Regions from separate parts of the Homo sapiens genome. Here regions 2, 3, 4 and 5 are each linked to region 1. Evidence: fine-mapped expression QTL. A gene starts in region 1. Each other region holds a variant in brackets. All regions are shown on one strand. Distances are between the middles of the regions. Region 1 holds the start of QTGAL (queuosine-tRNA galactosyltransferase). Region 2 holds the start of LOC124904095. Region 3 overlaps NARF (nuclear prelamin A recognition factor). Region 4 overlaps QTGAL (queuosine-tRNA galactosyltransferase). Region 5 has its middle 48 kb from the start of METRNL.

The links. PIP is the estimated chance that this variant, and not a neighbour inherited with it, causes the effect.
Region 2: its variant is fine-mapped to the expression of QTGAL in cerebellum (GTEx, PIP 0.96).
Region 3: its variant is fine-mapped to the expression of QTGAL in hippocampus (GTEx, PIP 0.90).
Region 4: its variant is fine-mapped to the expression of QTGAL in nasal epithelium (TOPMed, PIP above 0.99).
Region 5: its variant is fine-mapped to the expression of QTGAL in whole blood (TOPMed, PIP above 0.99).

Annotation. Positions count from the first base shown.
Region 1 is chr17:83,048,138-83,054,575 of GRCh38, forward strand. QTGAL (queuosine-tRNA galactosyltransferase) reads right to left here and starts at 3,633. Exons shown (of 13, transcript NM_001009905.3): 1 at 3,600-3,633; 2 at 532-648; 3 at 334-433. The coding sequence starts at 3,614. LOC124904094 reads left to right here and starts at 3,050. Exons shown (of 4, transcript XR_007065967.1): 1 at 3,050-3,108.
Region 2 is chr17:82,939,384-82,945,821 of GRCh38, forward strand. It overlaps TBCD (tubulin folding cofactor D), which reads left to right. Exons shown (of 39, transcript NM_005993.5): 37 at 1-93; 38 at 2,016-2,100; 39 at 3,066-6,438. The coding sequence ends at 3,080. QTGAL (queuosine-tRNA galactosyltransferase) reads right to left here. Exons shown (of 13, transcript NM_001009905.3): 13 at 2,766-4,666. LOC124904095 reads left to right here and starts at 2,107. Exons shown (of 1, transcript XM_047437261.1): 1 at 2,107-2,694. The coding sequence starts at 2,123. The coding sequence ends at 2,671. The variant C/G (reference allele first, on the strand shown) is at 3,777.
Region 3 is chr17:82,463,845-82,469,576 of GRCh38, forward strand. NARF (nuclear prelamin A recognition factor) reads left to right here. Exons shown (of 11, transcript NM_012336.4): 3 at 443-586; 4 at 4,920-5,052. Among named protein-coding and RNA genes, the nearest start is that of NARF, 8.0 kb to the left of the region's middle. The variant C/T (reference allele first, on the strand shown) is at 3,138.
Region 4 is chr17:82,957,066-82,963,503 of GRCh38, forward strand. QTGAL (queuosine-tRNA galactosyltransferase) reads right to left here. Exons shown (of 13, transcript NM_001009905.3): 8 at 3,992-4,116; 9 at 294-429; 10 at 116-184. Among named protein-coding and RNA genes, the nearest start is that of QTGAL, 91 kb to the right of the region's middle. The variant G/GCA (reference allele first, on the strand shown) is at 3,442.
Region 5 is chr17:83,124,329-83,130,647 of GRCh38, forward strand. No RefSeq gene overlaps it. Among named protein-coding and RNA genes, the nearest start is that of METRNL, 48 kb to the left of the region's middle. The variant G/A (reference allele first, on the strand shown) is at 3,008.

The DNA of each region.
Region 1 (6,438 bases):
TGCTTCAGCCTCCCAAGTAGTTGGGATTACAGGCGTGTGCCACTACGCCCGGCTAATTTTTGTATTTTTTGGTAAAGATGGGGTTTCACCATGTTGGCCACGCTGGTCTTGAACTCTTGACCTCAAAGGATCCGCCTGCCTTGGCCTCCCATAGTGCTGGGATTACAGGTGTGAGCCACCACACCTGGCCTCTACTAGGTTCTTAATAAGTGGTATATCCAATTACCACCAGGATACTTTTTGTCAGTATTTGAACAACATGAAACTGTTTCGGTACGTAAGTTGATAAGAAACCACGAATTATAGTTTAATAAACTAAGCATGTTTACTTACCGCCTCTAGGAGAGGGAGAATCGTGCCCCCCAATGATCACGTGGACACCAGAATCTTCCAGCTTCACTCTCCATTTTTCAATGATAGCCCCAGACTTGTCCTGAAAGCAGAACACTGGCAGGTCAGGAAACTTCCCTCCGAACAGTCAACCGTTGCTTACACTGGGGCTGAGTCACCCGACAGGAAGTTCCTACAAACCTTACTGGCATCATTGAAAACAGACAGCTCCATGGTACCTTCAAAGTCCTGTTGCAAAACAGACCTCAAACATTCGTCCAGCCACGGTTCAGCGTTGTGGACTGGGAGGATAATAGACTGGAATTCAAAAGAAATGGATTAACAGAAGTGTGAAAACTTAGTTCCCTTTCCATGGCTCTAATTTACCTCCCCTTCACCACCCGCACATATGCCGTGACAAACAAAAGGTGTCCACTCCTTTTCTCCAGGCTCTTAACATGCTTGTAAGATTCTTTACGTCTTAGCTTTCCCTGAACTGCCTTCTACATGTTTTTGAAAGTGAAAAAAAAACTGAAAGGACTTTGGGAGGCCGAGGTGGGTGGATTACAAGGTCAGGAGATTGAGACCATCCTGGCTAACATGGTGAAACCCCATCTCTACTAAAAATACAAAAAATTAGCCAGGCGTGGTGGCAGGCTCCTGTAGTCCCAGCTACTCGGGAAGCTGAGGCGGGAGAATGGCGTGAACCCGGGAGGCGGAGCTTGCAGTGAGCTGAGATTGCACCACTGCACTCCAGCCTGGGTGACAGAGCAAGACTCTGTCTCAAAAAAACAAAACAAAACAAAACAAAAAAACTGAAAGGCATCAAATTGTTCCCAACTCAATGGTAAATCATGAGTTTTCCAATCACTGATCAGAAACATCATTTTGGTTGAAACAAGTATCTGGGTATCTTCCAACTCACTCATGAAAATAACTGGTTGGTTTTTTTTTTTTTTTTCTGAGATGGAGTCTCGCTCTGTCACCCAGGCTGGAGTGCAGTGGCTCGATCTCGGCTCACTGCAAGCTCTGCCTCCCGGGTTCACGCCATTCTCCTGCCTCAGCCTCCCGAGTAGCTGGGATTACAGGTGCTGGCTGGTCATGTTCTAGGTGGAATAAGCATTTCGGCAAACCATGTTAGAAAACCTGCAACAAAGTAACCCCTTTAAGTAACCCCTCAGCCCACAAAAAACAATGTTTTAACAAAGTATCGGGCAGGAGGTGTTCAAAGAACCCAGCTGAGCAAATGGGAGGCCTGACGTCCATCTCTCGATTCCTTTGTCCTACACTTCGTTTCGGGCTAGTGTAGCTAGTGTCCTTTTCTCATTGTCCTTTTCTCATGAAGCCCAAAACAAAAATTTATAAAGTGGGATGGAGTAAAACCAGGAAATTCAATGCCAACAAAACAACTGATTACAGGAGTTAAGTCTTAATTTCATACATTATAATATTAAGTGATACGGAGCGATACTTAAGAGATTAGTCTGTCCTCACCCTTAATTTATATCCAAAAAAGAAAAGTTGAAATTGTGTTGAAAACACAATTTAGTCAAGTTCTTTACAAATGAAACCTCACTCTGTCTCTTCCTGGACTTAGGTTAATAAGAATAAAACGAGTTCTGGCCGGGCGCGGTAGCTCACGCCTGTAATCACAGCAGTTTGGGAGGCCGAGGCGGGCAGATCATCTGATGTCGGGAGTTCAAGACCAGCCTGACCAACATGGAGAAACCCCGTCCCTACTAAAAATACAAAATTACCCTGGTGTGGTGGTGCATGCCTGTAATCCCAGCTACTCGGGAGGCTGAGGCAGGAGAAACGCTTGAACCCGGGAGGCAGAGGTTGCGGTGAGCCGAGCTCGCGCCATTGTACTCCAGCCTGGGCAACGAGTGTGAAACTCCATTTCAAAAAATAAAAATTAAAAAAAAAATAAAACGAGTTCCCTAATTTATTTACAAATTTACCTTAGTTTGGATTTACTTAGAGGAAAAGAAGGAAATAATTTTTCTCAAGATCTACAAAATATAATGTTTCTATCAAAGATAGACCTTGATTCACCTGTTACCAATTTTAGTAAGACTGGAATAAAAAAGAAAAAAGGCTGGAAAAAAAACAAACAAAAAAACAAAAAACAGAAAACATGCTGAGCCTTTGGGCGACTGCTAATCCTACATCCCTGTGGTTGTTCCCTGCATCGGCCTATTGGCTGGGTCTGAACCCTGAGGGCCTTTGCTCCAGCCTCTGCCGGAGCACGGGGAAGGTGTTCGGGGCTTAAGGGCAGGTTTTTAGGGCACGTGTTTGGGGTAAGTGTGCTGGGCACACAGGCAGGTGTGTGGGCACGGAGGAGGTGTGCAGGTAGGTGTGTGGGATGCGCAGGCAGGTGTGCACGGCAGGTGCACGGGCAGGTATGGGGCACGGGCATGTATGCAGGACGCAGAGCAGGTGTGTGAAGCAGGTGTGCAGGCACAAGACGTGTGTGTGGGGCATGGGCAAGTGTGCCGGGAATGTGTGACGGCAGACGTGTGGGGTGCGAGGTTGTGTGGGGGCACACGGACAGGTGTGCAGGCAGGTGTGGGGCACGGGGAGGTGTGCAGACCAGGTGTGTGGGGTGCGGGAGCGAGGCAGGTGCGCGCGGCAGGTGCGCGGGGGCGAGTCAGGAGCGCGGGGCACGTGTGTGGGGTGTGGGGCAGGTGTGCGGGGGCGGGGCAGGTGTGCAGGGCAGGCGTGCAGGGGCAAGGCAGGTGCGTAAGAGCGAGGCAGATGCGCAGGTGCGCGGACCAGGTGTGTGAGGTGCGGGGGCAGGTGCGCGGGGGCGGGGCAGGTGCGCAGGAGCGAGGCGGGAGCGAGGCAGGTGTGCGGGCGCGGGGAAGGAGCGCGGGGCAGGCGGGCGGGGATGAGGCAGGTGCGCCGTTCCTCCACCCCACGACCAGGTGAGGGCGAACGGGGAACTGCCTGAGCTCCGAGCCCGGAAGCTTCAAAATCAGAACGAGGAAGGTCGGTGAGGAGGCCACGCTCGCGGGACGGGGGCAGGAAGCGCAGCCGGAGCTGCAGATCTCGGCCGCGCCCCGCGGGCTCCAATCCCGAGCGTCCCCCGCACGCGCAGCCGCGCTCGCCCGCGGGGCCTAAGGGCTGCTCAGGGCGGAGACCCCGTAGGTGAGCCCGAGAGGCGGTGCGGGGCTGCGAACCCCGGAGCGAGAGAGGACTGGAGGGCGGGGTGAGGGGACGCGAGGACCCAGCCTGCACGGCGGGGCACCCTCCCCGCTGGCACCTACCACGTGGGCCTGCATGGCCTGGCTCTCCTCGGACGCCCCGCCCACGCCGGCTCCGCTCATCCCGCCGCTTCGGCCTACGGCGCCTGCGCGGGCGGCACCAGGAGGCGGGTCTGAGGCCAGGCAATCTCCGATTGGTGCAGAGCGGCGTCCATAGGGGTGGGCCTCCCGGAGGGGCGTGGAAGGGGCGGGGCTGCTCGGCGCGGGGCGGGGCCGGGAGGTCGCCGCCTCAGTCTTCCGCCCTGGGCCACGCCCCGGTCCCGGGTCACCTCTCGGAGCCGCCTCCTTGGCCCGTGGAAGCCTCCTGCTCTCCCCTAGGGCGCGCGTCACAATCTCTGGTCCCCCGTAGACGCCGCCGCGGGGAAGGCGGGGCTGTGCGAGGGCGCCGCGCTGCAAACCCAAGCCAGGCGGCCTGGAGTTGCTGTAAAGCCTCAAGCAAGGCTGATATGTAAAAGGTCGTTGCATTTCACCCGGGCTGTGGGCTGTGCTACTTGACCGGGGAGGACGAGGGGACTGCAGGGCGTCCTTTCAGACAGACGCGGTAGGGAGAGCAGGGCGTGCAGGACACTTGACGGCCCCAGGAGAGGGGTGAGGCCCTGACCCCACCGGGGTGTCATCCAGGAGGAAGGGTGCCCGGGGCGAGGTCCCCCAGGAGAAGTGCCCAGGCCTGAGGCCTTGACCCCACTGAGATGTCCCCCCAGGAGGAGGGGTGCCCGGGGTTAGCTCCCCTAGGAGGAGGGGTACCCGGGAGTGAGGCCCTGACCCCACCGCGAGGTCCCCCAGGAGGAGGGGTGCCCAGGAGTGAGGCCCTGACCCCACCAGGAGGTCCTCCAGGAGGAGGGGTGCCCAGGAGTGAGGCCCTCACCCCACCGTGAGGTCCCCCAGAAGGAGGGGTGCCCAGGAGTGAGACCCTGACCCCACCAGGAGGTCCCCCAGGAGGAGGGGTGCCCGGGAGTGAGGCCCTGACCCCACCGCGAGGTCCCCCAGGAGGAGGGGTGCCCAGGAGTGAGGCCCTGACCCCACCAGGAGGTCCCCCAGGAGGAGGGGTGCCCGGGAGTGAGGCCCTGACCCCACCGCGAGGTCCCCCAGGAGGAGGGGTGCCCAGGAGTGAGACCCTGACCCCACCAGGAGGTCCCCCAGGAGGAGGGGTGCCCGGGAGTGAGGCCCTGACCCCACCGCGAGGTCCCCCAGGAGGAGGGGTGCCCGGGAGTGAGGCCCTGACCCCACCGTGAGGTCCTCCAGGAGGAGGGGTGCCCGGGAGTGAGGCCCTGACCCCACCGTGAGGTCCCCCAGGAGAAGGGGTGCCTGGGGAAAGACATGACCTCAGTAGCTCCGGGTACCCTCCACCTTTGCCCTCATTTCCGCCTCCGCATGCAGCCTTGGGAACTGCAGGGCTGGGAACCCGGAGAAGGCGGCCGGGCTCTGGGGGAGCTCAGAGGTGGCCTTCCCTGCCAGGAACACAGGCCAGGCCCCATCCCTATCTAACCTTATACTTGAGGAGCACAGAGCGGATATCTCCAGATTTGAGTCCTGAACGCGCGGCCGGGAACCCCAGCAGTTCTGAACTTGTCAAGGGAGCAGCCTGCCATGAGGGGTCTCCCAGGCGGCTGTGAGGCCTCTGGAAACTCCCTGCTTGGAGGAGGTTGACTGGGGACAGGGCCGTGGGGGTCAATAAAAAGGACTGCTGCCATTAGCCCTGGGCTGCCTGCACACAGAGATTAAGCCCGCTTGGGATTTGTTCCAGCTGATCTGAAGTAATGAGTAATTCACAATTAATGAGCATGGCTGTAAGCAGCCCTTCCTGGACAAATCCTTGGCTGTCCAAAACTAAGATTAAATGCAAATCATTCTGTCAATTAACCGTTACAACAAAGCCAAACTTCTGTTAAGCATCACTTCATAGATGGTTTTTTTTCCCTTAAATTGCCTCCTTGTTTGCAAAGCCTGTTTTACAAGTGGACTGCTTAAGTCACATGAGTGAAAATGCAGCCTTATTTACCGTTCAGCAAAAGCTATCTGAGAATTTGCTTCCAGGGACTTCATGTTCTCCAGAGGTTGGGGTACTAGGAATCATTTCATTGTAAAGGACTCAGTAAAAAGTAGCCCTGTAGCTGCCAGAATGCGCCGTAGGCTCATGATAAGGTAGGTGGTAAGGGCCAGAGGTCAGGGGTCACAGATGGCTTCTGCCCCTCCACAGCACATGGTGTCCAGAACTGGGCTTGCCTCTCACCTTCCTTCCTGTACATTTCCTGGTGCCAGAAATTTGCTTTTCACTGACTTCCCCCTAATTCAAATTTGATTAGAATCTCCTTTTTGGGAACATTCAAAGTGCCAAGGTGCGTTTCAGAAATGCAGGGTTGCAGAGGTGGGGTCCTGAAATCCAAGGGTGGTGGGGCCTGAGATCACTGCCCTCGCAGTAGGAAGATCCTCGGGGAGAGGTCAGCAGAGGGCCCGGACAGAAGGCACTGACACTGTACCCTGGAGAGAGACAGGAAGGAGGACCTGGGGCCTCAGAGCTGGCCGGGTGGAGATCGTGTGGTCTTCGTTCAGAGGGAAGTGAGGTGCTGATGAAAGATGATTGACGTCACGTGGGCACCAGCAGAGGAAGTGACACAAAACGCCCCACAGCTTTGGGTTCACTGAGTGGGCAGTTGTATTTATTTATTTTATTTTATTTTTGTAGAGATGGGGTCTTGCTGTTGCCCAGACTGGTCTCGAGCTCTTGGCCTCCCAAACTGCTGGGATTACAAGTGAGAGCCATTGCAGATAGCCAGTTTTCTTTATTTTTAATTGTTGTTTGTGCAAAAGGTTTTGGCGAATACTGGCTATATTCAGAGGACTC
Region 2 (6,438 bases), 110 kb before region 1:
CAGCCAGGTGTACGAGACATTGCTCACCTACAGTGACGTCGTGGGCGCGGATGTGCTGGACGAGGTGGTGACTGTGCTCAGTGACACTGCGTGGTGAGTGAAGGCCCTTCCTGCACGGCCACCTGGGCCTGGCACCGCCCCTCTTCCTGTCCCCACCGTGTCTACTCGTCTCTCCCAAAACCCTCTGATAGGAGGAGGAAAGAGGGTTCCCAGGTCTCCACATCCTCTGCTTAGGTTTTACAAGGCAGCCGTGCTGCTGTAGCCGAAACCTCTTCTCAACCGCCCTGTCCCCAAACAGTGTCAGGTGTCAGGAACACAGCAAAGCCATCCATCCCACCAGGGGAGCGGGCACCTGTACCACAAGGCTGTGTCTGGTGGCCTGTGGAGCAGAGGGCACTGAAGGCCTGGCAGGTGCTGCTGCCCCAGACCTCTCTAAAGTTCTCTTGGAATAGGCCGTGTGAGCACCTGTTGGAAATCAAGAGGCACAGGCGGAAATAAGAAAAGCTCTCCCCACGCCTCTGCTCTGATGTCCACCCCCTTCCTCAGGGCCATGAGGCCCTCAGGAGGCCATAGTGCCACTCTCCACGTTTACTTTGGCAGGCACAGTTTCTGCAACATGGGCTGGCTTCTTTACCATGGGTGGAGTAGAATGGCGGTTTTGAAAGATGTGTGTATTGAGTTGGGGGTGGGAGGGTCTGAATGAGAGCAGAGTGGGGAAAGTGCAGGCTCAGGTGTCCTGGGCCAACCGGTATGTTCCTGGGAACAGCAGTGATGGTGTCTTACACATATGGGCATGGGCACCCATGCTGGCTCACACACATGCTCACTTGCACGCGCGCACACACACACACACACACACACACTTCTAAAAGGGGAGCAGTCTCGTCACCCCGTGTTGGAGATCAGGACTGAAGCAACCAGAGGCTGTGTGGGTGTCCACATGGCATACCCGGGGTGGTGGAGTCCCAGGTGTCCTGCCTGTGGATGCTGCTCTGTTTTGAGTGCCGACTGTGAGGGCCTCCGTGCTGATCCCGGTGCGTTGCTACAGGTCTGTGGGGTCCACGCCCCTTGTTGAATCCAGCAAGGACGTAGGTGACGTTCCCTAGGTGTCTCCTCGGAACAGTGACCTTCCAACAGGGCTGGGTTCCCATAGAGCTCACGCACCAGGCAGCCGCTGTGGCCTCGGAGGACAGAGGTGGCCTCTCCAGGGCTTCCGCGAGGTTTTCTGGTTTGGGGAGGAGTGTGTGTCTGCTCCTAAACAAACACGTGGTCCCAGGAGAGGAACCGGGAGCAGCTGGGCTGTCTTCTCAACATGCGTTGAGAGAATGGCCATCTTAACTACTGCTCTGGAGACCCGTTTTTACAATGATTTTTTTAAAAAAAAACACCAAGGTGCATTCTGGACCAGATTCTAAAATAATTGGCTTTAGGACTGAAGAAGCCAGGTGTCCCGAGCGGGGCGAGGCCTCCTCCAGCGAGGCTGGGTCGGGGTGGCCTCCTTTCCTCACATCAGGGAGGGAGGAACTAGCAGGGTGGGCCTGGGGGCTTCTCCTATCGTTTAATCCCCTTTCTGTTAAAAAAAAAAATCCTTAGAATTTAAAGAGAATATTTTAAATTAGAAACGAAAAACATGCCCCAGATATCTCCACAGCATTGCTAGAATTTTTATTTCGCATCAACAGCTAAATTAAAACCTGGAAAACCCTTGTCAGCCCCTCCTTGGCCTCGCTTGGTCTGTCCTCCCGCAGTCCCTGCGCTGGGCGTGGTCCTTCCCGAGGGGCACCCCTTGTTGGGAAGGAACCGTCCTCCTGCGATTCCGGAAAGGGCTCAGGCTCGAGGCTCTGCTGGAGAACGTGCTCCTGTGACGTCTTTTCTGCCCTCAGCCTGGCTATGGATGTCGGGGGTGAGGTCTCCTTTCCCTGACTGCGGCCATGGAAGCTTGACGCGGGACCTCCGCACACCTGAGGTTCTCCGGTGGGCACTCGAGAGACTCACGGCTCTCCCTCTCCTCACAGGGACGCGGAGCTTGCAGTGGTGAGAGAGCAGCGCAACCGTCTGTGTGACCTTCTGGGCGTACCCAGGCCCCAGCTGGTGCCCCAGGTAACCCTGTCACCTTCACAGCATGAGGTGCCTGTGCTTCCCTGAGCTCTGGAATGTTCTGGGGCCAGCGGCTGTGCTTAGCTTCTGCCAGCACGTCCACACGGCCCGTTCCCTCGTCTCATGTCAGGACCCCTGGGATTACGGGACCAGCAGAGCTGCCTTCTCTGGCCACTGCCCACACCTGTGGGCCCCTGTGGCATCCAGGCCACTTGCTCTGGGGCGTTTGGGGGGCCGGGGAGTGGGTGGAGCTGGCACCAGCTTGATCCAGGCTCCTCATGCCTGGCCCTGGGGTCTGTTTGTGCTCCAAGTGCCAAGAGTGCCACCCTACCCCTCCTCATCTGCTTCCCATGAGTGGGGCCGGGGCTGGGTGAGAGGCCCCCAGAAGCTGCCCCTGTGCACCTCACCAGCCCGTCACTCTTCTAAAGTAACAAAAACAAGTACCTCAGTTCTCTCGGGGGCTGGGGCCCAGGGTTGCTGTGCTGTCTCTCTAGTTACCAGGGTTGGCTCCTTCCTCTCAGCCTCCTTCCGGCAGGAGGTTATATCTGAGAGGGAGGAGGAGAACCATGTCTAGATACATGGGGGCAGTGGGGATGGGCTGAGCATCAGGACACAGCCTCCCCCATTTCTGTGTGTGTAAAGGCTGAACTCAACAGCAGACTTTGGAATTAAATGTGCTTTTTACATTTTTATTAGGAAAAATTTCAAACGTGTGAATGCAGGTTAAGAGCAGTGCAGTGAACCTCCCTTCCCGCTCCCCAGATGGGGTGCCCTTCCGAGGACACGTTAGTCATGAGCACCTGTCAGCCACATAGCTCAGGCTGCCGGGTGTGTGGGAAACGGCACAAATGGTTTCCTGCAGGAACCGTGTCAGTCCCCACACAGGGCCCAGAGGGGTGAGGGTCCCCTGGCTGGGAATGGTGTGTGTTGGAGCTGACCAGCCTGAGCTTGTCTTGTCTCTTCTTCAGCCTGGTGCCTGCTGAAGCCAGTCCTGGAGCCCATACCTCACCCCTGCCTGGTGAGGATGTCTTGTTCCTGAGGGAGGCCGGTGTGGAAAGCCTCGCACAGTGGTGCCTCCAGCTGTTGAAGGGTAGCGCTGGCCCTTGGAGGCTGGCACTAGCTGACAGCTTTTCCTCTCTGCACCTGCGCTCTGGTGACTTGGGGTGGACGCCTCTGCCTTCACTTGAACACAAATGTGCTTCCTATAAAATCATGTACCAAGAAGTTCCTGCCTTTTGTCTCTGAGCCTGATGTGTGTAGGGGTGATGGAAAGGCTCACTGCCCAGGGGTCAGCCAGAGGGGAGGTGGGCTGCACTCCTCCTGCCTGGAGACCAGGCCCCCTTCTTGCCTGGTGCTGTCCCTGCTGTGGGAGACGTCTGGCCACAGGCAGTGCCCCACCCAGTCTTGGAGAGAGATGAATGTTAAATCAGAGGTTCAAATGCTAGAGAACTGAGAAGCCCTGGTGGCAGGCATGGTCTGGAGTGCTGGGCAGATGCTGTTTCTGGGCCCGTCTGCCTGGTGGGGGTGCTGTCCTCCCCCCTGTGCACACGTGAGCATCGTGCATGTGGCCCCTCTGCAGTGCAGGAGTCACTGATTGATGGGTGTGCCGACCAGCAGCTTCACAAATGTCTGCTGCAAGGGGAATCGTCAGAGTCCAATGTGTGCCTCTACAGTAATGT[C/G]GGAAATAAATACCATTCTTGAAATAATTACACTGTCTTAGGAGAGCCTGGGCAGAGTCCACACTTGGGTTTTTAGGCAAAGGGCAGGAGGCTACCTTTGTCTCTGTGTCTGAGCTCGTGCTGATCCATCCCAAAGCTGGTGAGGGGAACGTGTATAAAAATTTCACTGTGGTAGCAACCCACACCCATCTCTGGGACCTGTGCTGTGCTCATAGGGCTTGAGGTGCAGAACCACGGCCAGCAGCACCAAAGCAGCCCCAGGTGTGGCCACTCAGAGGCCCAAGGGCTTGGGTGAGCAACCCTTTCCCTATGTGAGGAGCCCAGGGGTGCCATGTGCGTGGTGTAGATTAGGGTGGCTCCCTGGCCTGCTCTCAGGTGGGGATGGGGCCTGGACACAGGAACATGGGCAGGCCGAGAACTGGGAGGTGCCACCGCATCTGTGAGGCTTGTGAGGTCACCAGGACCACAAGACCAGGACTGTGACAGTCCGTGCTGTGTGTTTAGCAGACAGCTCTTCACGGGATGTGTGTGACGACCTGGCCACACAGGAGTGTGGGGTTAACACACTACTGTTGTTGTGTTTGACCTGGTGGCCAATGGTCTTTATACCCTAAAAGAGCCTTGGGTTACATTTTTACGAGATTTAAATATTTTATTCCAACCTGTGTAATAGGGGTCTCCTCCTCCTTGAACTGTCCCGATTGGCTGGGGTCACGTGGTGAGGGTCCTGGGTGACCAGGCCTAGCCTTGGCCACATGAGTCCACACAGTGGAAAAGGCTTGGCTCCTGTGGTCGGCACACACGAGACTCTGGTTGCGCCTGCTGGGTGTGGAACAGGCGCACCATCGCCATGCCTGCAGCTCACAAAGCTCCTGCTGGCCTGGGATGCACTGAGGATGGAAGGAACAAGTGGCTTCTGAGAAAAACATGATGAACTGTTCTTAGTGCAATTAAAAGAAGATTCCAGATAAATGGCATTTTAAGACATGGAGGCAGGTCGATTACCCACCCAGACCCATCAGTGACACTATGTGGCAAAGCAGTTCTTCTTTTAATGTCGGTCTAACTTAGCAACCCGAGGAAAGTGGATCACTCCACTGGCCACTGCCTCTTTCCCACTGGATCCCATCCATCACTGGGGCACTTGTGCTCACCAGACACCTGGTGGCCTGGAAAGCCCTCTTTCAGCAGCCGTTTCTGGAGCCCACCAGGGTCCAGGTGATAGAGTTTGGCAAGGAACCCCTTGCTCACATGATAGCTGGGGCAGACAATAGCAAATGAACAAGCAAGCACCATCAAGGCAGGCAACACTGAGTGCTATGAACAAAGATAAAGTGGGCAATGGAATGGCATGTTGGGTGTTGACTCCGAGAAGGTGTTCAGAAAACCTCTCTGAAGGGGCAGCATTTGGGCAGAGGTCCAGACTGTGTCCAATGGCAGAAAAGAGAATGCTTGTGGTCCCAGAAGTGGAGCAAGCTTTGTGAGTTTAGAGAGCAGCAAGAAGCCAGTATCCCTGGGACCGGGGAGCTGATGTGGGATTTGTGTACCCACAAACACGTTCTAGGTGCTAACCAGAAACCCTCCATGTGAGAGCAGAGACCTTGGAGATCCTGAGGGTTTCTGCTGAGCCCTGGAATCTAGTCACGCTATTTTGATAGCAGAATGGATGAGAGAATTTAAGGCCCAGGGCCAGATCTAATGGACCACTATATAAAGCTGGGACCCTAAATAAGTCTTTTTCAAAGGAACAGCAGCAAGACTCTTATCTCAATCTATCTCCCCTGAAGTGGCCTGAATTAATACTACCTGTATGATCCCCAAAACTCCTAAAGTGGAAAATTTGATTGACTTGGCCCTGACCAGTGGTATTCCCAGACAAGGGCAGAAGATGCAAATACAAAACCTCTCTGGTAGAATGTAGGCTATAATATGAGTACATTTTTGAAAAGGGCTAGAAATGATCAAGAAGAGATTAGAAAAAAACAGAGCCCCTAGAAATGTAAGAAGTGAAATGAAAAGCTCAATGGATAGCTTAGACACAGCTGAAGAGAGAATTAGAAAACTGGAAGATCTGAAAACATTATCCAGAGAACTGGAAGATATGACAGCAACATCAAGAGACATTGAAGAATGTCTAACCTTTGGGTAATTGGGGTCTCAGAATGAAATGAAATGATGCAGATATTCCATACTGACATGCAACAGTCCCCAGATACAGAAGCCTAACAGTCTCACATTTAGACCTGCCACAGTGAAACTGCAGAACTGTAAGAAGGACAGAGTGATATAAACGACTACCAATTTCCCAGCAGCAGCACTGGAGTTGAGCAGTGAGTAGACCAAGGTCTTCATTATGCTGAGAGAAAATAGCTGTCAAGTTGCTTGAATTGTGCCCACAGCATAACATTAAAGAAGAGAACAAAATTAAGTCATTTAGATAAAAATATGCCATTCTTATCTGTTTGGTTTTTTAATCTTGGCTTAATATTTGGGGTTGAGTCATTTGTTTTGAGAGCTGTCCTGTTTATTGCAGGGTGTTCAGCAACATCCCAGATGGAAGCAGCATCCCCCTACCCAGCTGTGACAAAAAGAAAAAAAAATGTCTCCAGACACTGCCAAATATCTTCTGGGGGTGCCCCTGGTTGAGAACCACTGCTTTAGT
Region 3 (5,732 bases), 580 kb before region 1:
GGCCAGGGCTGTGGGTGGCCTCAGGGAGCCGTGGGATGGTAAGAGGGGGCACAGAGCTAGAGGAGCAGTCAGAGGGCTGGATCACAGGCACCAAAGAGGAAGGGGTCTAGGAGGAAGGGGTCTAGCAGTGGGGTGAGCTTCCAGAACACAGGGGTCATTTACTTCCTACCACGTGACAGTGCTAGGGCTGGGTTCCACCCTTGTCATCTGCATGGTTCCCTAGTGTCATTGTGGGCTGGGCCCTGTGTCCTGTGTCCCTTCACCACCTTGAGCTGCTCAGTGGCAGAGACTGTCCTGCTTCCAGCCCCTTGAGCACCAGGCCTGGACCCTGGTATTATCTCCAATGTTTACTGTGAATTCTGTATATGGGTGTTACCCTCTCTAAAGAAGCACATTAAAGAGTATTTGTTGAATAATCATGCTGAAACGTCATCTTTCATAGAAGGGAGAATTCCACAAGTTGGCTGATGCCAAGATATTTTTGAGCGACTGCCTGGCATGTGACAGCTGTATGACTGCAGAGGAAGGAGTCCAACTTTCCCAGCAAAATGCCAAGGACTTCTTCCGCGTTCTGAACCTTAACAAGGTAAGGCATTCGGGGCATTTGCTGATGCTGGGGAGCTGACCTGGAGGAAGTGGAGGTGAGGCCTGGCTTCCTGCACAGAAGCCTCTGCTGGGACATCGGATGCACATCTCAGCCTTTTCCTGGTGTTGCTAACATCCTGCTTTGACCTTCCAAACCTCTCCATCAAGAGCAAAATCCCCGCACAATTTCCTGCTCCCTTAATAATGCTCAGGCAGTGGTGGGGGGCTGGCATCACCCCTCAGGCTCCTGTGGCTTAAGCGGGGCCTCTGCCTGGTGAGGTCAGGTAACACGGGTGTTGGTGATCATGCGGGCAGCACAGAGCCGGAGCTCCTGCTGTTCTGCCTCGGCTGCACGTTTTCGGACACGAGAGTTATGTTCTAATAGACCGATCAGCTTGGGGCAAGGCAGAGACACTCCAAGGAAGTAAAAATTCCCAAAGCTCCTTCCTTCAGCTCATCCCTGCAGACCTCCTATACAGAACGAGAGGTGCCACTTGTCTTTCCGTGAGACAGGTTGTATTAGTCCATTCTCACATTGCTACAAAGAACTACGTGACACTGGCTAATTTATAAAGCAGAGAGGTTTAATTGACTCACAGTTCCACAGGATCTACAGGAGACATGGCTGGGGAGGCCTCAGGGAACAACCATGGCGGAAGGGTGAAGGGGAAGCAAGCATGTCTTCACGTGGCAGCAGGAGAGAGCAAGTAAAGGGGGAGGTGCTGCACCCTTGTAAACAACCAGATCTTGTGAGGACTCACTCACTATCATGAGAAGAGCAAGTGGGAGATCCGCCCCCATGACCCAGTCACCTCCTGCCAGGCCCAGCCTTCAGTTTCACATGAGATTTGGGTGGGGACGCAGAGCCAAACCATATCACAGGTGAAAGAGAAAGAGACAAAGGCAGATGAGGCTGAAAAGCACTTCTTGGTTTCCATGCTGTCACCTCCACGGGAAGCACCGGCATCCTACCCTGCCCAGGGTGTAGGAGCCCATTCACAGTAGGTAGTGTGCTAGAGCAAGGTAGGGGCCTCAAGAAACACTGACTGGCACAAGTGGGTGGCATAGGGGACAGCCAAGGAGCCTTCTCAGCGTTTGCCATTCACCCCCATGGCTTCTGGACAAGTCATCCAGCAGCAATTAGATCACAATATTTTTCTTTGTGAGACAGGGCCTCACCCAGGCTGGAGTGCAGTGGAGAGAGTCTCAGTGGGGAGACTCTGGTGATCCTCCCACCTCTGGAGGCTCCCTGTAGCCTCCAGAGCAGCTGGGACTACAGACGCGTGCTACCACACCTGCCTAATTTTTGTATTGTTTGTAGAGACAGGGTTTTGCCATGTTGCCCAGGCTGGTCCTGAACTCCTGTGCTCAAGCGATCCTCCAGCCTCAGCCTCCCAAAGTGTTAGGATTATAGGCATCAGCCACCACCCATGACCTAGATCACAATTGCAGATAGAGACACATGTCCTCTGTGTTGCCAGCATTAGTTGTGTCTGGGTGTACCCTGACTTATATGCACTTGCACGGGAACTCCGTTAGCAAGCAGCAGGCTGCCTGGATAGGATGGTCTGAACCAGGAGATGCCCCCCACCCATCAGCCAGGTTCGCCATGCATACCCGTCCCCACCTGCTCACCCTTGGCCTTTCAGGGAACAGAATGGCTTCAGCCATTTTGTTACGTTGAACAGACTTAGTGGATACAGCTTTGCAGACTACTAGAGACTTAATTCTGTGGTGTCAACGGTTTTTGCAAAAACCCTTGAAAGTGTCTGTGTCACTTTATGCTTCCCTAAGTGATAGGGGCAAACAGCTGTGTGCAGCCATCCTGGTCACATTCAATATCAAATTCAGTTTTTTCCCCCCTGATACATAGAGAATTGTATCTCATTTGCATTTTCTTGCTTATTTAGAGAAGTTGGTTACCCTAGATGATGTTTATTGACAGTTTATATTTTATCTTATGCTGCTTGTCCAGTCTACAACTTATATTTTAGTACGGTGTGCGATGTGAATACATTCTTCTTCCTTTTTTTTCTTTTCTGAGATGGAGTCTCTCACTGTCTCTCAGGCTGGGGTGCAGTGTCGTGATCTCAGCTTATTGCAACCTCTCCTTCCTGGGTTCAAGCAATTCTCCTACCTCAGCCTCTCAAGTAGCTAGAGTTACAGGCAGGCACCACCATGCCCAGCTAATTTTTGCATTTTTAGTAGAGATGGGGTTTCATCATGTTGGCCAGGCTGGTCTCGAACTCCTGACCTCAAGTGATGTGCTCGCCTCGGCCTCCCAAAGTGCTGGGATTACAGACGTGAGCCACCACACCCGGCCAGATACATTCTTTTCTATTTGAAAAAATCAAATTGTTCCAGCATCTTCTGTTCTTCCCCTGTTGACCTGAAATATTATCCTACCTCTCTTATATATTGATAGATGTGCATCCATTTGTTTCTTTTTTTTCGGCCTTCACCATGTTGGCCAGGCTGGTCTTGAATTCCTGGCTTCAAGTGATCCACCTGCCTTGGCCTCCCAAAGTGCTGGGATTACGGGCATAAGCCAC[C/T]GTACCTGGCCTTCTTTTTTTTTTTTTTCCCCATTACTTCCACCCCACCCTTGTACTGCGTGTCTATTTCTTGACCCTTTTTTGAGATGGAGTCTCACTCTGTCGCCCAGGCTTGAGTGCAGTGGCACGATCTTGGCTAACTGCGACCTCCACCTCCTGGGTTCAAGCAGTTTTCCTGCCTCAGCCCCCTGAGTATCTGGGATTACAGGTGCACACCACCATGTCTGGCTAGCTTTTGTATTTTTAGTAGAGATGGGGTTTCTCCCTTTTGGCCAGGCTGGTCTCGAGCTCCTGACCTCAGGCTATCCACCAGCCCCGGCCTCCCAAAGTGCTGGGATTATAGGCATGAGCCACCACGCCTGGCCCTTGACTCTTATATCTGAACCTGTCTTCTATTGCGCTGCCAACATCTAGTTTATGCTAGTTTATGCAGTATTTTTTTAGAACAGTTTGTAGATGAGGCTTACTCACAAAACATCTTAGGCCTGGTAACTTTTTTTTTATTTTTTTATTTTTTATTTTTGGAGATGGAGTCTCACTCTGTCGCCCAGGCTGGAGTGCAGTGGAGCAATCTCAGCTCACTGCAACCTCCATTTCACTTCAACCTCCACCTCCCGGGTTCAAGCGATTCTTCTGCCTCAGCCTCCCGAGTAGCTGGGATTACAGGCACATGCCACCACACCCAGCTAATTTTTGTATTTTTAGTAGAGATGGGTTTCGCCATGTTGGCCAGGCTGATCTTGAACTCCTGACCTCAAATGATCCGCCTGCCTCAGCCTCCCACAGTTCTGGGATTACAGGTATGAGCCACCATGCCCAGCCGGGCTGATGACTTTTAAGAGGCATCTCTGGATACCATTTTAGTGTGTCTGTTTTTTTTATTGTTGTGTAGTAATTTCACTTATTCATTGGCCAATGTTGTAATTTGTATTTTCCCTTTAAAATTATTTATTTTTTCCAGATATTCACATTTACTGATATAACATTGTTCTTGAAATTGACAAAGTCTTTTAGATCTGTAGTCTTGTCTCTTTTAAGACAGAGTATTGGCCAGGCTAGGTGGCTCACACCTGTAATCCCAGCACTTTGGGAGGCCGAGGCAGGTGGATCACAAGGTCAGGAGTTTGAGACCAGGCTGCCCAATATGGCAAAACCCCGTCTCTACCAAAAAGACAAAAAATTAGCTGGGTGTAGTGGCAGGTCCCTATAATCCCAGCTACTTGGGAGGCTGAGGCAGGAGAACCACTTGAACCTGGGAGGCAGAAGTTGCAGCGAGCTGAGATCGCGCCACTGTACTGTAGCCTGGGCAACAAGGGTGAAACTCTGTTTTTTTTTTTTTTTTACTGTAGCCTGGGCAACAAGGGTGAAACTCTTTTTTTTTTGAGACAGAGTATTACTCTGTCACTCAGGCTAGAGCGCAGTGGCTATGGCTGTTCCTAAGTGTGATTATAGCGCTCTGCAGTCTCAAACTCCTGGCCTCAAGTGATCCTCCTGTTTCAGCCTCCTGTGTAGCTGGAACTGTAGGCATGCACCACTGAAGCCAGCTCATGTTTCATTTTTTAAATCCTGACTTTTAAAAAAATATTTACCAGAAGCCCAAACCTCACCATAATCCTGATTTTTTTTCTCCTTTTTCTTAATTATGTTTGCCAGTGTTTGTCTATTTTATTAGTCTTTGCATAGACCATCTATTAACGTTGTTCTGAATTTCTCATTAAGGTGTGTAACTTTTACTCCTTGTGTAATCAGCAGATACCTAACATTCTCTATTTCTCCTTCTAGAAATGTGATACCTCAAAGCACAAAGTGCTGGTAGTGTCTGTGTGTCCTCAATCTTTGCCTTATTTTGCTGCTAAATTCAACCTCAGTGTAACTGATGCATCCAGAAGACTCTGTGGTTTCCTCAAAAGTCTTGGTGAGTCATCTTTTGATAAATTGGGAATGTATAACTTGAGTTTATAAGCGCCCTTTTTAATCTCTAAAGTTCGTTTTTCAAGGACGCAGGGTAGATAAGCAACTTCCAAAAGAGTCTCTTGGAACGTAAAAAGACCATGTCCCGTGTGTCATGAAACCCAGCCTCTGATCGATGGTAGACGAGTGTCACTTTTCTCCTTTGCTGTGCACAGACAGGTGTTTTGTTACACAGTGGGAGCTGACCCCTCTGGGACCAAACAGTGACCACCTTCTGACAACACGGACAGGACACTGGGAGATTCCCACACTGGCCCAGCAACCTCCAAGTCACCCCTTACCCCCAGAGGGTGTGCATTTGATAAACAGTCACTTCTGAAATGATTAGTATCTGGTTTCCCAAGAAGCTCTCTGAAGAGCAGAGCAGAAAGGGAATGGGCTTGTGTTCTTTACTTGAGGAATGAAAGGTAGAAATTTAAGAATATAATAAAAGAACTCGGATGTCAACGCTGGAATAGTACTACCTGAAATGTTGATGGATGATGCTTCTGCGTCTTCTGCTTTGGTCAAAGGGGAACTGCCTCCCTCCATTTGCTTATAGAGGGGCTTTTACAGCCTTGAGCATCCTCATAGCATGATGGTCAGTGTGCAAGTTCAGAAAGGGAAAATGAGCGAGTTGCCAAA
Region 4 (6,438 bases), 91 kb before region 1:
GAGGAGCCAGCACGGCCCAGGTGGACTCTGCCAAGGGGGAAGGCTCGGAGCAGCTGTCCCTCAGCCCCGGAGCAGGTGGTTGACCCCAAGGGTGACACCATGCGGCCCTGCACACCTGAGAGTCCTCGTGGCAATAGAAGCCTTTCCTGATCTTGTTCTCGTCCACGTCACAGAATGCCACCACCTGGGGACAAGCACAGAAGGGCAGCTCTGGACAGGCCGGGGCCAGGGCCTGTGCTGTGGGACAGTACGGGGGCAGGGCAGGCAGTGTTGGAGGGTGGCAGGATGCTCACCTTGCGCTGGCTGCCGGCAGTCAAGCTGCGGTACAGCCGGCGCCCCTGCTTGCCAGCGTTCCAGATGGTGAAGGCCGCCCAGCGGGGCAGGGCCTGCTCTTCCAGGAAGCGGACGCGGTGGGTCCAGATGGTCGTCCTGCGGTGGAGAAGAGGGTGATAGGCAGGCCGGAGGCCCCACAGATGCACACAGATGCTGACATACAGGGACATGATGTGTGCTCAGCTCACGTTGCCAGTGGAGTGGACACCTGGCCCAATGCCTAAGAGAGACTGGCTGTCCTACAGTCAGGCCACCTGCCCCAGCTGGACGTAGCCACATGCCTAGGTGGGGATCCACCCCTTCCATTAGACCCCAACAGGTGGGGACAGATGAGAAGCTGTCACTTAAGAATCTAGAAGGTTCTGGAAGGCAGAATTTCTGTAGGACGCAGAGGACTGGACTTGACCCAAGTCCAGTTTCCCAGAGAAACCTTTGTCCATAAGGACACATGCAACCATCCCATAAAATCCCAGCGTTCACACTTGGACACGACCTTCTGCCTCAGGGTCGCTGCCCCGAACCCTTCCACTCCCCTGGGAACCTGGTCTCTGTTCTCCCTCTGCTGTGACAAGTCGACCCCAGGCTGCTGTCCCGGGGGGAGCAGGCTCCTTCCCATGACCTGCTGCTCTGCCCAGCGCCCAGCCCCATCGCTGCCCGGGCCCTTCCCAGCCCCGCCCTCTCTCCTCCCACCGCAGCCCCTCCCCACGTGCCCCATCGCTGTCTGCCTGTGTGTGCCTCTCCCTCAACCCTGCTCCTGGAGCTGCCCGGGCTGAGCCCGTCTCAAAGCCCCAGGAGCTGGACGGGCCAGAAGCTAGAGGGGCAGGGGATGCAGAGGCCAACGGGGCCAGAACGGCGTGGGATGTGTCCCAGATGCTGTCCTCCCCAATGGCCGCGATGTAGCCACGCTGAAGCCCGGTACCCCACAGACCCTGCCCTGGCCGAGTCCTGGGATGCCCTCTGCTGTGTCAAGGGAGCTGTGTCCGTGGGAGTCTCCTCCGGGGTGGGGTCTGGGCCAGACACAACCAACACTGGCTGGTGACGGGCCTCCCCTGAGCAGGGCCCTCGTGGGTTCAGCCTCGGGATCGGGGCAGGATTTCGCTGTTCTACGATTCTGCTGCTGCCTCCGCCTCCCGGGATAAACTTGTGACTCCCCCCCAACCCTGTGGCACCCCCTGTTTGTAGCAGAACCCCCACAGGCAATGGGATGGGGGGGATGGGGGGACACGGGGTCCCCTCTGTCAGCTCAGGGAGCTGCAGGGCTTAGGCACTGTCAGGGAGGTCCTGCCTGGAGTCTACCTTTTCCTCCCCAACCCTCTGCAGCCACCTCAATAGTCCGGACCCCACCTGGGACACAGGGAGATGCTTATCCCAGTCAGTGACTTGGGGACACTGAAGCATGTGTGTGTGTGTGTATACTGTGTGGGGGTGTATGGTGTGTGTGTGTGTACACTGGGGGTGTATGGTGTGTGTGTGTGTGTACACTGGGGGTGTATGGTGTGTGTGTGTATACTGTGTGGGGGTGTATGGTGTGTGTGTGTGTATACTGTGTGGGGGTGTATGTGTGTGTGTGTACACTGTGGGGGTGTATGGTGTGTGTGTGTGTATACTGTGTGGGGGTGTATGGTGTGTGTGTATACTGTGGGGGTGTATGGTGTGTGTGTGTGTACACTGGGGGTGTATGGTGTGTATGTGTGGGGGTGTATGGTGTGTGTGTACACTGTGTGGGGGTGTATGTTGTGTGTGCACAGTGTGCATGTGTGGTGAGTGCATGTGTACATGAGCACGTGTACAGTGTGTGCAGGTGTTCGGAGTACATGCCTGTATGTACTGTGTGGATGTGTGTACACGCATGTGTACACGTGTGTGCAGTGAGGGCCTGTGCATGCAGTATGAGTACATGTATGCAGTGAGTGCACATGCCTGCATGTACCGTGCAGATGTGTGTACATGCAGTGTGTGTGCACGTGAGTGCGTGTGTGCAGTGAGCGTGTGCAGTGAGTACGTGTGTATACTTTCGTGCACGTATGTGTGTGCATGCTGTACATGTGGTCTGTGTGCACGTGCAGTGTGTGTGTGTGTGTGAGAACCTGGGTGAGGACAGCTCCTGCAGACGGCTGCGGGGACTTCCCCACCAGGTGACGCAGCCTCGCCGGGTTTTGGCATCTTGTCCTTAGCAGCCCGGGTGTGTTGGGTGTCTCGGGGCGGGGGGACGAGCCTGATCCTCCTCATCCACTGACATCAGCTTAGGGACCCCAGGGGGTTCACGTGACAGGAAAGCAGTCAGGGCTCCAGAAGAAAGCGGGGGGCCTCTGTGGCCGTGGGTGGCACGCGAGGTTTGGGGGGCCTCTGACACCGGCCTCCTCGACGGCCCCTTGTCTCCTGGGCTTTCCTAGGGGTCTCTGGTCTGAAAATGTTGGCCCATCGTAGGAAGGTAAAATGTAGAAGCAGCCATGATGTCTGTATTTGGTTCATCTTCATTTTTCACATTTTAAAAAGTTCTCATTTAATCAGGGAGAACAGGCTCCCCAGGGCGCCCTATGCCTCTCTTTTTACATCCTCAGAGGAAGCCGTGGCCCCGCCTTAGCACCGGGAAAGGTGGAAACCCAGTTTTTCCCAAAAGCACAAGACAGCATTTCTGGAAATGTTGCAAAGGAGCTGAAGTGTCAGGGACACGTCACCGCATGAGGAGGCGGCCAAGGTGCCGGTGGGCATAAGGGAGAGGAGCGCGGACGCGGGAGGCCCCAGCATGCAGGAGTGAGGATGATGCCCCCAATGGGGAAGCTCGTGGCCCTCCTGCCAACCCCCCAGCCCCACCCCGTGACCTTGGACCTTAGACCCCCTGGGGAGCTGGGATCTTGCCGAGAGTCTCAACCCCATCACGGCAGGCCTGGGACCATCGCGGCTCCCACACCCACACATGACCCTAGTTGGGGTCTTGAGACTCCGGGGGCCCTGAGTACCCGTAGGGGCCGAGACGCAAGCCTCGGACGGCGGCCTGCTTTCCAACTTAACGCTGCGGCACGCGGCAGGCAGGTGGCCGAGACCTCTGTGTCCTCACAGTTCTAAGGAGGGAACTGTCTGCCCGGATCTAAGGAAGGAATTCTACAT[G/GCA]CAGTTTCACCCCGATTTGCCTCACCCCTGCCACGGCTCCAACGCAGCCACGCGGCACCCCCAGACCCGGGCCCACGTGGCCGCTCCTCACAGTGACACGGGAGAGGGAGGCGGACCCCGCAGCACTGGGCGCGTCCTCACTGGGTGCTGCGATTCCCTGGCCGTGCCTCTGCCACCCTCCACGGCAGCTGCGCCCCCCAGGCCTGTGGTCCCCGCCGGACCCCACTCATGAGACTCCCGTCGGGTTAAAGGGAGCACAGGGTTTCAGAAGGACCCGGCGCGTGGTCATTTTACCTCTGGGAACTAGGGAAGGACGTTCGGCCTTCACCCTGGCGCTCCCTGGCGCCCTTGGGAAATGCCCCTTCGTGGACGCCGAATCCCCGCCACCCTCGGGATGTGCTGTTGCCCCGTGTCCCACCAGACCCTGGGTCTCAAGGCAGAGCCTGACCACAGCCTCTGGGGTCGGCCCCACCAACCCCGGCCCCGACCTCGGGCGCCTCCCGTGTTCCTGGCCTCTCAGGCGTCCCGGGGCCGGGCGGGGCTGACTCACTCGAGGACGCAGTGCGTGGCCGCCTGTGGGTGGTGGCGATACAGCAGGAGACTCTGGTCCACGCGGATGACGCCGCCGCCCTTCCTGAGGTGCTCGTAGAAGAACAGCAGGTCCTCCGGGACGCCCTGCAGGGCGGGAGAAGCAGAGGCATCACTGGGGCCCCAGAAACGCGTGCCTGCCCCGGATGCACACTACACCTGCGCTCAGCCGGCCAACCAGGAACCGGTGGAAAAGGCTTTTGTTGCAAAGAAACCGGTCTAGAGGCTCAACAGGGACGTGGGGCGGCGACCACAACAGACGTGAGCAACCGAGCTTCTCCACAGGCGGGAAAGAGGGGAAGGGAGGGTGGGCTGGGTCTTGGTTCTGCCCCAAATTCCATTTTGAGCAGTAAAGGTCTCAGGGCAAAGAGGAAGACAGGCAGCCGAGGAAAGGGGCTGGGGTGGGTCAGGGTCTCACAGCCACGGCTCCTGGATGGCTGGTCCGGCCTCCGTCCCCATCCTTTCCTGCCAGTGGCTGCAGCCCCAGAAGCTCAAGGGACTCAAAGTGCCGACTGTGGGCAGAGGACAGTGGTGCTGGGTGGGCGTGTGGGGCTGCGGGCAGGGGAGCCCAGCAGTGGGGAGGCAGCCCCGGGCCTGTGCCAGCCCTGCTCACTTGTCCAAGCTCAGAAACTTGAACCTCAGCCCACGGGGCTTATCCCCGAACACTCCCTCCATGTCAGTGGGACTCTGCTCCAGAACATTCTGCAGGCATTCCCACCAGACTTTTCTGTCCTGTGAGAACCTGGGCCCTGCTTTCCCCGGCCCATGATCCCAGTGGCCCCTGCCCTCTGCTTGCTCCTCTCCTGGGTGACCCCAATCCTCAGCCCAGGGCTCTGGGCCTTGTGTGGAGCCGGGCCCCTGTCGCTTTCTTAAATTCAAACAAAACTGAGGGAGGAGCAGGGCGTGGAGTCTGGTCTCCTCGTGGTTCTCTGCGGCAGCTCACCTGGGTCAGCCGCCCGGAGACACCTTTGCTCCAGGAAAGGGCAGGTTTTCTGAGAGCCTAGCAGCAGGGCCAGTCTATCACCAAGTCCAGCCTCTTCTCTCCTTGGCTGGTACACAAACTTCAAGTGCAGGTCAGTAAAGTCCCCAAACTATCACGGCCCAACCGCTGGCCTGTTTGCTCCCAGGACAGACAGGCAGTGCTATGGTTCCACGTCCAAAAAAAAGGCACTGTTTAACCTCCGCCTCTCCAGGGCGATCCCTTTTACAAAAACCACGATGACATGGAAAGATTTGTAAGAAGATGCTGAGTCAAAGAACAGACCTCAAAATCATGTGTCAGCCCTGCTAAAAGTTTATCCACCATAAGATAAAGACAAAGGAATCACAGAAGCCCACATGCTGTCTCACACGGGTGATTTAGGGTGGAGGGTCCCGCGGGTGCTGGTGGACACGGACCCTCACACGGGTGATTTAGGGTGGAGGCTCCCGCGGGTGCTGGTGGACACGGACCCTCACACGGGTGATTTAGGGTGGAGGTTCCTGTGGGTGCTGGTGGGCACGGACCCTCACACGGGTGATTTAGGGTGGAGGCTCCCGCGGGTGCTGGTGGACACGGACCCTCGCAGGGGTCACTGAGGTATTTTCTTTAATTTTCTGTGTCTTCAAAGGCAGCTCTAAAGAGCACTGGAACTCTCAACATGTTACAGGTTTAAGAAGAGAAAAAAGGTTTCTCTCTTCCTATCACCAGAAGAGCCCGACCCTTGGGGTTTTCTTATTTTCTGGCAGTAAAGTGAGAATTTAGTCAACAGCCGCTCCCGGGTGGTGCCTCTGCCCTGGGAGGAGGGGGACGCAGAGGATCTGTCCCATTTTTCTCCCCTCCCCTGATTGCTGCTGCTGAGACCTGAGAGGCCCGAAATGGCCTCACTCCTCCCCCAGGCTTTTCCCAATCAGCCTCCAGGTGCCTGGACTGCCCTGTGGTGTGGAGGACCCCTGGCGGGGCGCAGGGAGAGGGGGAGGGGTCACAACCCAGAAAGGCATCAGGGAAGAAGCCGAGTGGAGGAAGTGTGGCCGCCGCCCAGCCCCAATCTGCTCACAGAACCATCCTCGGGCAGCCTTGGGGGATGGAGCACCCAGAACTGCCTGGAGGAGAAAAGCGTGAGCTAAAGCCACTCCCAGGAAGGCCGGGCCAGAGGCTGTGGAGACTCGGATCCTGAGGCAAAAGGAAGCCGAGTCAGGGACGCGCTTCCTTCCCCAGGGCTCGTCCCCAGCGCCACCCGCCCTTCTCTAGAGCCCCATCCCCAGCGCGAACCTCCAGGAGGAAGCAGCAGTCACCACGCGGGGACAGAAGGGGGAGAGCTCGAGCCAGGGCCCAGCGATTGGAGTCCGCGGAACGCAGGGACATGAAGTCCAGCAGAGAAAACTAAAAACTGGCAACACTTCCATGGATAAAAATTCAGCCTCTCCCTC
Region 5 (6,319 bases), 76 kb after region 1:
CCGGGCCCCGCCAGGGACCAGGCAGAGCTTATGCTGCTGGGCTGGGGCTGGCCTTGGAGAGCTTGTGTGTGTGGAGCAAGCCTGTGCCTCAGTCCGTTCAAAGGAGCCCGAGAAAGAGGAGCATCCCCCGGATGGGGCCCATGAAGCTCCTCCCTGGGAAGCAGCCTGAGGGCACCCCTGGCCCAGGGGCTGAGTCCTGACGGCGTCTGCAACCTCTGGGCTGTGGTCTCCCTGAGCCCTGATGGCATCTGCAACCTCTGGGCTGTGGTCTCCCCAGTCCTGACGGCGTCTGCATCCTCTGGGCTGTGGTCTCCCTGAGTCCTGACGGCGTCTGCAACCTCTGGGCTGTGGTCTCCCTGAGTCCTGATGGCGTCTGCAACCTCTGGGCTGTGGTCTCCCTGAGTCCTGATGGCGTCTGCAACCTCTGGGCTGTGGTCTCCCTGAGTCCTGATGGCGTCTGCAACCTCTGGGCTGTGGTCTCCGGGAGCCTTGACGGCATCTGCAACCTCTGGGCTGTGGTCTCCCTGAGCCCTGATGGCGTCTGCAACCTCTGGGCTGTGGTCTCCCTGAGTCCTGATGGCGTCTGCAACCTCTGGGCTGTGGTCTCCGGGAGCCTTGACGGTGTCTGCAACCTCTGGGCTGTGGTCTCCCTGAGTCCTGACAGCGTCTGCAACCTCTGGGCTGTGGTCTCCCCAGTCCTGACGGTGTCTGCATCCTCTGGGCTGTGGTCTCCCTGAGTCCTGACGGCGTCTGCAACCTCTGGGCTGTGGTCTCCGGGAGCCCTGACGGCGTCTGCAACCTCTGGGCTGTGGTCTCTGGGAGCCCTGACGGCATCTGCAACCTCTGGGCTGTGGTCTCCGGGAGCCCTGACGGCATCTGCAACCTCTGGGCTGTGGTCTCCCTGAGCCCTGACGGCATCTGCAACCTCTGGGCTGTGGTCTCCCCGAGCCCTGGCAACCCCTATCCCTCTCCGCTCTCCTTCGGGCACACAGCCCGGCATCTCTGCTCTCCAAGGGCTCGTAGTGCCTGAAGCCGACACTCTCTCTCCTGCACACACACAGGTCGATGCCTTCTTGTTCCCAGTGCTTCAGAACAGAGCTGGCAGCGGCTGCGGCAGGAGCAGCTCCCACTGACAGGCTCCTGCAGCCTCCTTCCCACCTGCACAGGAAAAAAGCCCGCATCCATTCTGTAAGGAGCTAGAGCAGCTCTTTGGCATCCTGTACAGGCCTTGGAATGCTTCAGGGAAAAAAGATGATTCCGCATCAGAATGGCTGTGGTCAGACTTGCTGGCAGAAGCCTCCCCCAGGCTCTTGACATGTGGCTTCTGGTCCCTTTTCCTGCCACACCCCTGGGTTCCGCGCAGACCTGGGTCCTTGAAGAACTGAAATTCTAGCTCAACCTCGGCAACTCTGTAGCCATTCGCTGGAAATTTCCTAAGAGAATAAATTGCAACACAGTGCGGCGGATGGGCTGTGTGGGTTTATTTTTACCACGCGCTTAGTGCTATAAAGACGTCACCTTAAATCAGGAGCGTGCAGGCGTCAGTAGGAAATATGTGCATGTGGCAGGTGACGCAGGCCACACCCTCGCCCTCGAACCCCTGGCTTCCTGCACCTGAGCGGGTGGAGCCCAGCTTGACTCCAGCCCTGACGATGGACCTGGGTGCAGAGGGGACCCCTGGTGACCTGCAAGGTCCGACCTTCTGTCCCTTCATGCAGGGAACCTGTGGGGCTGTCACTCCTGAGGGAAGCTCTGAGTCTGTTTCTCTGGGGATTTGCCAGGGGAGAAGGTCATCCACCTGTCGGCTGGTAAGACAGGGTTCCCTGCATGTGATGACAACTTCCTTTCAAAGCCAGCAGCTTGCACAGCGTTTGCTCAGGTTCTCTGAACGGATTACCATTCATTCACCCTGCACCCCTGCTCCACTGAATGCTGGGGGCAGCAGAGGCAGCTCTGGCCATTGGGGCAGCCGCACGACTGTNGGGGGCAGTCAGGACCGGGAAGCCTTGGGCAGTGTAGGGTGCCGTGACCAGGGAGGGTCTGCTTCTTGCAACAGCCCCTTTCCCTTTGCACAGAAAATAATCTGAGGACAAGAACAGTGGCGTGGCTGGAATGGCTGGGGCTGCTCAGGGCCTCTGTTGTTCAGCTGGGCTTGCACCTGAGGCTGACCCCTGGTCTCTGAGACAAGCTGATGGCCATCAGATGCCACAACCCCTGTCTGGACAGGCCCCGAGGACGTGTGTCACCGCAAGGAGCTCAAAGAGGATGGTGGAGTGTCTGGGTCAGAGGTCAGGACCCACCTTGCATCAGCGGGCTTGGGTTTAGTCATTTACCTAGGAGGTTGAGGGTCATCCTGGCTTAAGTCCAGGGCATAGCACAGCAAAATCTACCCTTTGGGAGTTCATAAAGAACATGCATAGTTCTGGCCTCGTGGCGGTCGCCAGCTCTCCCAGGGCCCTGCTCTTCTCTGAGTGACCACTGCCCTCTGGTCTGGTGGACGCCTGGGCATCTGTTTCTATGAAACAACCTGTTTGTTTCTGTGTTTCAAATATTTGTGTTTATTATGGAAGAGACATTATTTTTTCATGGAATTCTGAAGACTGTCATTTTTGAAGGATAAGCAGGTTTTGGACAATTTGCAATTCTTACAACTGTCTGTAAATTTACATTACTGTTATAAATGAGAAGACCCTTCTGATATTCAGACACCTTGTTAAATACTGGCTCGTCATTGATGCGTGCAGCCCAGTGTGGGCTTTGTGGGGGTTTGAAGTGTGTGTGGTTTGTAGCACACGGACATTCCCCTCCCAACGCAGAGGCATCTTTGGCACGAGCTTCAACCGTAAATCCAGAAACAAGCTTGCTGGCTTTGGACTTCATGGGCCGGTTAAGTAACCCCCCATAGCTGAGGACTGATTTAAATGTACTTTTAATTTTGTCCAACAATAAAAAAAAAAATAAAGCAAGCAATAGCAGACATCGTCACTTATGGGAAGTGCCTGGGGAC[G/A]ACAGAGTCGGCCTGAAGGATGCTGCTCTCAGAGGCAGGCAATGGCCCCTCCGGGCACAGACGCTTTGGACTCTGCCTGTCTCCCTGAGCAGCAGCAGCCGTGACCATGTCCCTGTGTGTGGCCCTTGGTCCTGTGCATGTTCAGACCACAGCCCACAGCTGTCCTCGCGACCCCAGGCAGACACTGACCACAGGACACTGAGAGGTTCAATGCAAGGCAGGCACCACAGCACGAGGGGCTGAGTGCAAGAGCTCAGGCCGTCCTCTCCGAGAGCCCCACGCTGGAAGGGTGGGTGCGGGATCTGTAGGGTGGGGTGTGGGATCTGTAGGGTGGGTGTGGAATTGTAGGGTGGGTGTGGGATCTGTAGGGTGGGTGTGGGATTGTAGGGTGGGTGTGGGATCTGTAGGGTGGGTGTGGGATTGTAGGGGGGGTGTGGGATCTGTAGGGTGGGTGTGGGATCTGTAGGGTGGGTGTGGGATCTGTAGGGTGGGGTGCGGGATCTGTAGGGTGGGGTGCGGGATCTGTAGGGTGGGGTGTGGGATCTGTAGGGTGGCAGGTCCCCCACCAGGTTCTTAAGGCCCTGTGTTCGCAGCCTGGGCCCTGAAAGCCAGGTGGTGAGCCAAGGCCCTGGTGCCCAGGCCAGGAGTTGGTGTCTCTGAGAACCCAAAGATCGAGGAGAGGCTCTGAGAACCCACCGAGGAAACAGCCCCATCACACACACACAGGAGGCAAAGCCAGAAGATCAGCTTAAAATAGTTTGGAGACGGGAGGCGGCGCAGGTCTCAGGGCTGTCCTGCCACTGTGCAGCAGTGTCCTTGGTAAATCCTGATCAACACATTGACTCGTCAGATAACGTGGACCCTTCTGAGTCATTTCTTGGTCTTTTGACCCTTCCCAGTTTGGGAGGGGGTACGTCACAGTCCCAAGTTTTTCTCGTAAAGGGGTGTCCCCCATAGAATGCACCCTTGAGATCACATGGTCCTGGAGCCCCTTTCCAGGGGGTTCCAGAACAATGCTATGAAACATTTGTTCATTTGATTCGTATTTGTTGAATTCCTGCTACCTACCAGTCACTCTCAAGCATAACACGGAGCTGGTTCTGCAGACTACACCCGGGCATCTGGGAACTGGCACCCAGGAGAGCACCCGACACCGCTGAGCTGGGCCAGCAGGTCGTTCTCTCTGATTCCCCATCAGCCTTGCAAGACCTGTCTTAGGAAGAGGAGTCCAAGTGAGAAAGGGGCAGATCCTGGAGCCGGGAAGGGATTTGGGGGAGGGCCCCTGACGCCCTGTGGGCTGACCGTTCCCCGGTGCCACTCAGGAGTCTCCTGTGGAGCCCTCACATTTGCAGTGGGATGTGCTGTAGGTTTACGGGATCCCAGCGCCAGACAGAGTGAGAGGAACGGGACATTCATGCTGGTGTCCGTGGGTCCCGCCTGTTGCCTCTCAGACCTCTCACCGAGCTTCTTGACCTGGGCTTCGCAGACCCTGGGCTCTTGGACCTGTGTTCAAAGGAGCATGGACTCTGGCTGGGNTTGCTAAAGCTTCAGANAACTGTCCAGCGCTGAGTGGAGCGGAGGCAAGCCCAGGGGTGCTGCCCAGAGGCAGCTTCCTGAGAAAATGAAGTTGCTGTTGTTTAAAGCCACCGAGGTTTTGCAGCAACGGGGGAGTGAGCATTGGTCTCCACCACGCCCGGGGCCGGGTCAGGCCAGGACGAAGGGTGATGTTTCCTGTGCGGATCCCGTAGGTGGAGTTCACCGTCACTGGGAGGCCTCACAATCATTGCTTTATTCACCTCGACAGGTCCCATGAGGCGAGCCCCCGCTCCTCCCTTATTTAAGCATTTTAAATAACGAGTTTACAAATTTCCAACTTCAAAATGTGTTAAAAAATCTTCACTCCTCCCACCTCCTCTCCCGTCTGCTCAGTCCTGCCTCTTGGAAGAGGCAGCCATTGTCACTGGTGTCTTAGGTGACTTCCCAGAGGTCCTTTAGCACATACAGTTCAATACAAATACATATTCCCTGACTTTTACACCAACGGCAGGATGTTACATACACTTTTCTCCTTGTTACTTAAAAATTTTTAAATTTTCTTTCATTTTTATAATAGACTTTATTTTTAGGGCAGTGTTAGGTCTACAGAAAATTGAGGGGATCGTAGAGAGAGTTCCCACATACCCACGTCCAGTTTCTTGCACTGTTAACAGTTTATGTTAGAATGATACTTTGTTACAATCAATGAACCAGTGTTGNCACATGATTGTTAGCTAAAGTCTGAAGTTTATTCACGTCTTTAGTTTCCCCTAAATGTCCTTTCTCTGTCCCAGGACCCATCCAGGGTCCCACATGACACTTTGTCCCGCGTCTCCGTAGGCCTCTCGGGGCTGGGCAGTTCTCAGACTGGCTTTTGGTGACTGGGACAGTTTTGAGGAGGCCTGTTGGGTGTTTGGTAGCTGCGTCTCTGTTAGAATTGTTCTGATGTGTTTCTCGTGGTAAGACTGGGGTTTGGGGCCTGGGGACAATGACCCCAGAGGTGAAGTGCCCTGCTCACCCCATCCTGTGAGGGACTCACACACCCAGCACGGATGCTTGCTGTGGACACTGGCCTCGGCCACCCAGCTGAGGGGAGTCGGTCAGGTCTCCCCACGGTGATGTGATCCTTTTCCTTCCCTCTCCATACTCTCGGGAAGGAAGTCAGTCTACACAGCCCACACTTGAGGGTTGCGTATTTATGTTTAATTTAATATTATTTATTGGAGATCTTTTCATATGACTACAAAAAGAACTTCGTGTTCTGTTTCACGCCTCATAGTATTCTATTGTACGCATCTGCCGAGACATTTGACCGGTCCTCTCCTTGATGTGCATTTAGGATGTAAGTATCATTGAAGACACATACTTTTTTTTTTTTTGAGATGCAGTCTCACTCTGTAGCCCAGGCTGGAGTGCGGTGGCGCGATCTCGGCTCACTGCAAGCTCCGCCTCCCGGGTTCACGCCATTCTCCTGCCTCAGCCTCCCGAGTAGCTGGGACTACAGGCTCACGCCACCACGCCCGGCTATTTTTTTTGTATTTTTAGTAGAGATGGGTTTTCACCGTGTTAGCCAGGATGGTCTCCATCTCCTGACCTCGTGATCCACCCGCCTCGGCCTCCCAAAGTGCTGGGATTACAGGCGTGAGCCACCGCGCCCGGCCGAAGACACATACTTTTAAAAATATTATTTTTACATTGATTTGGTAAATTCTTAGAATTGCTGGGTCAGAGCCAGACGCGCTTGCAATTTTGTTAAGTGCAGTGAACTCTCCTCCA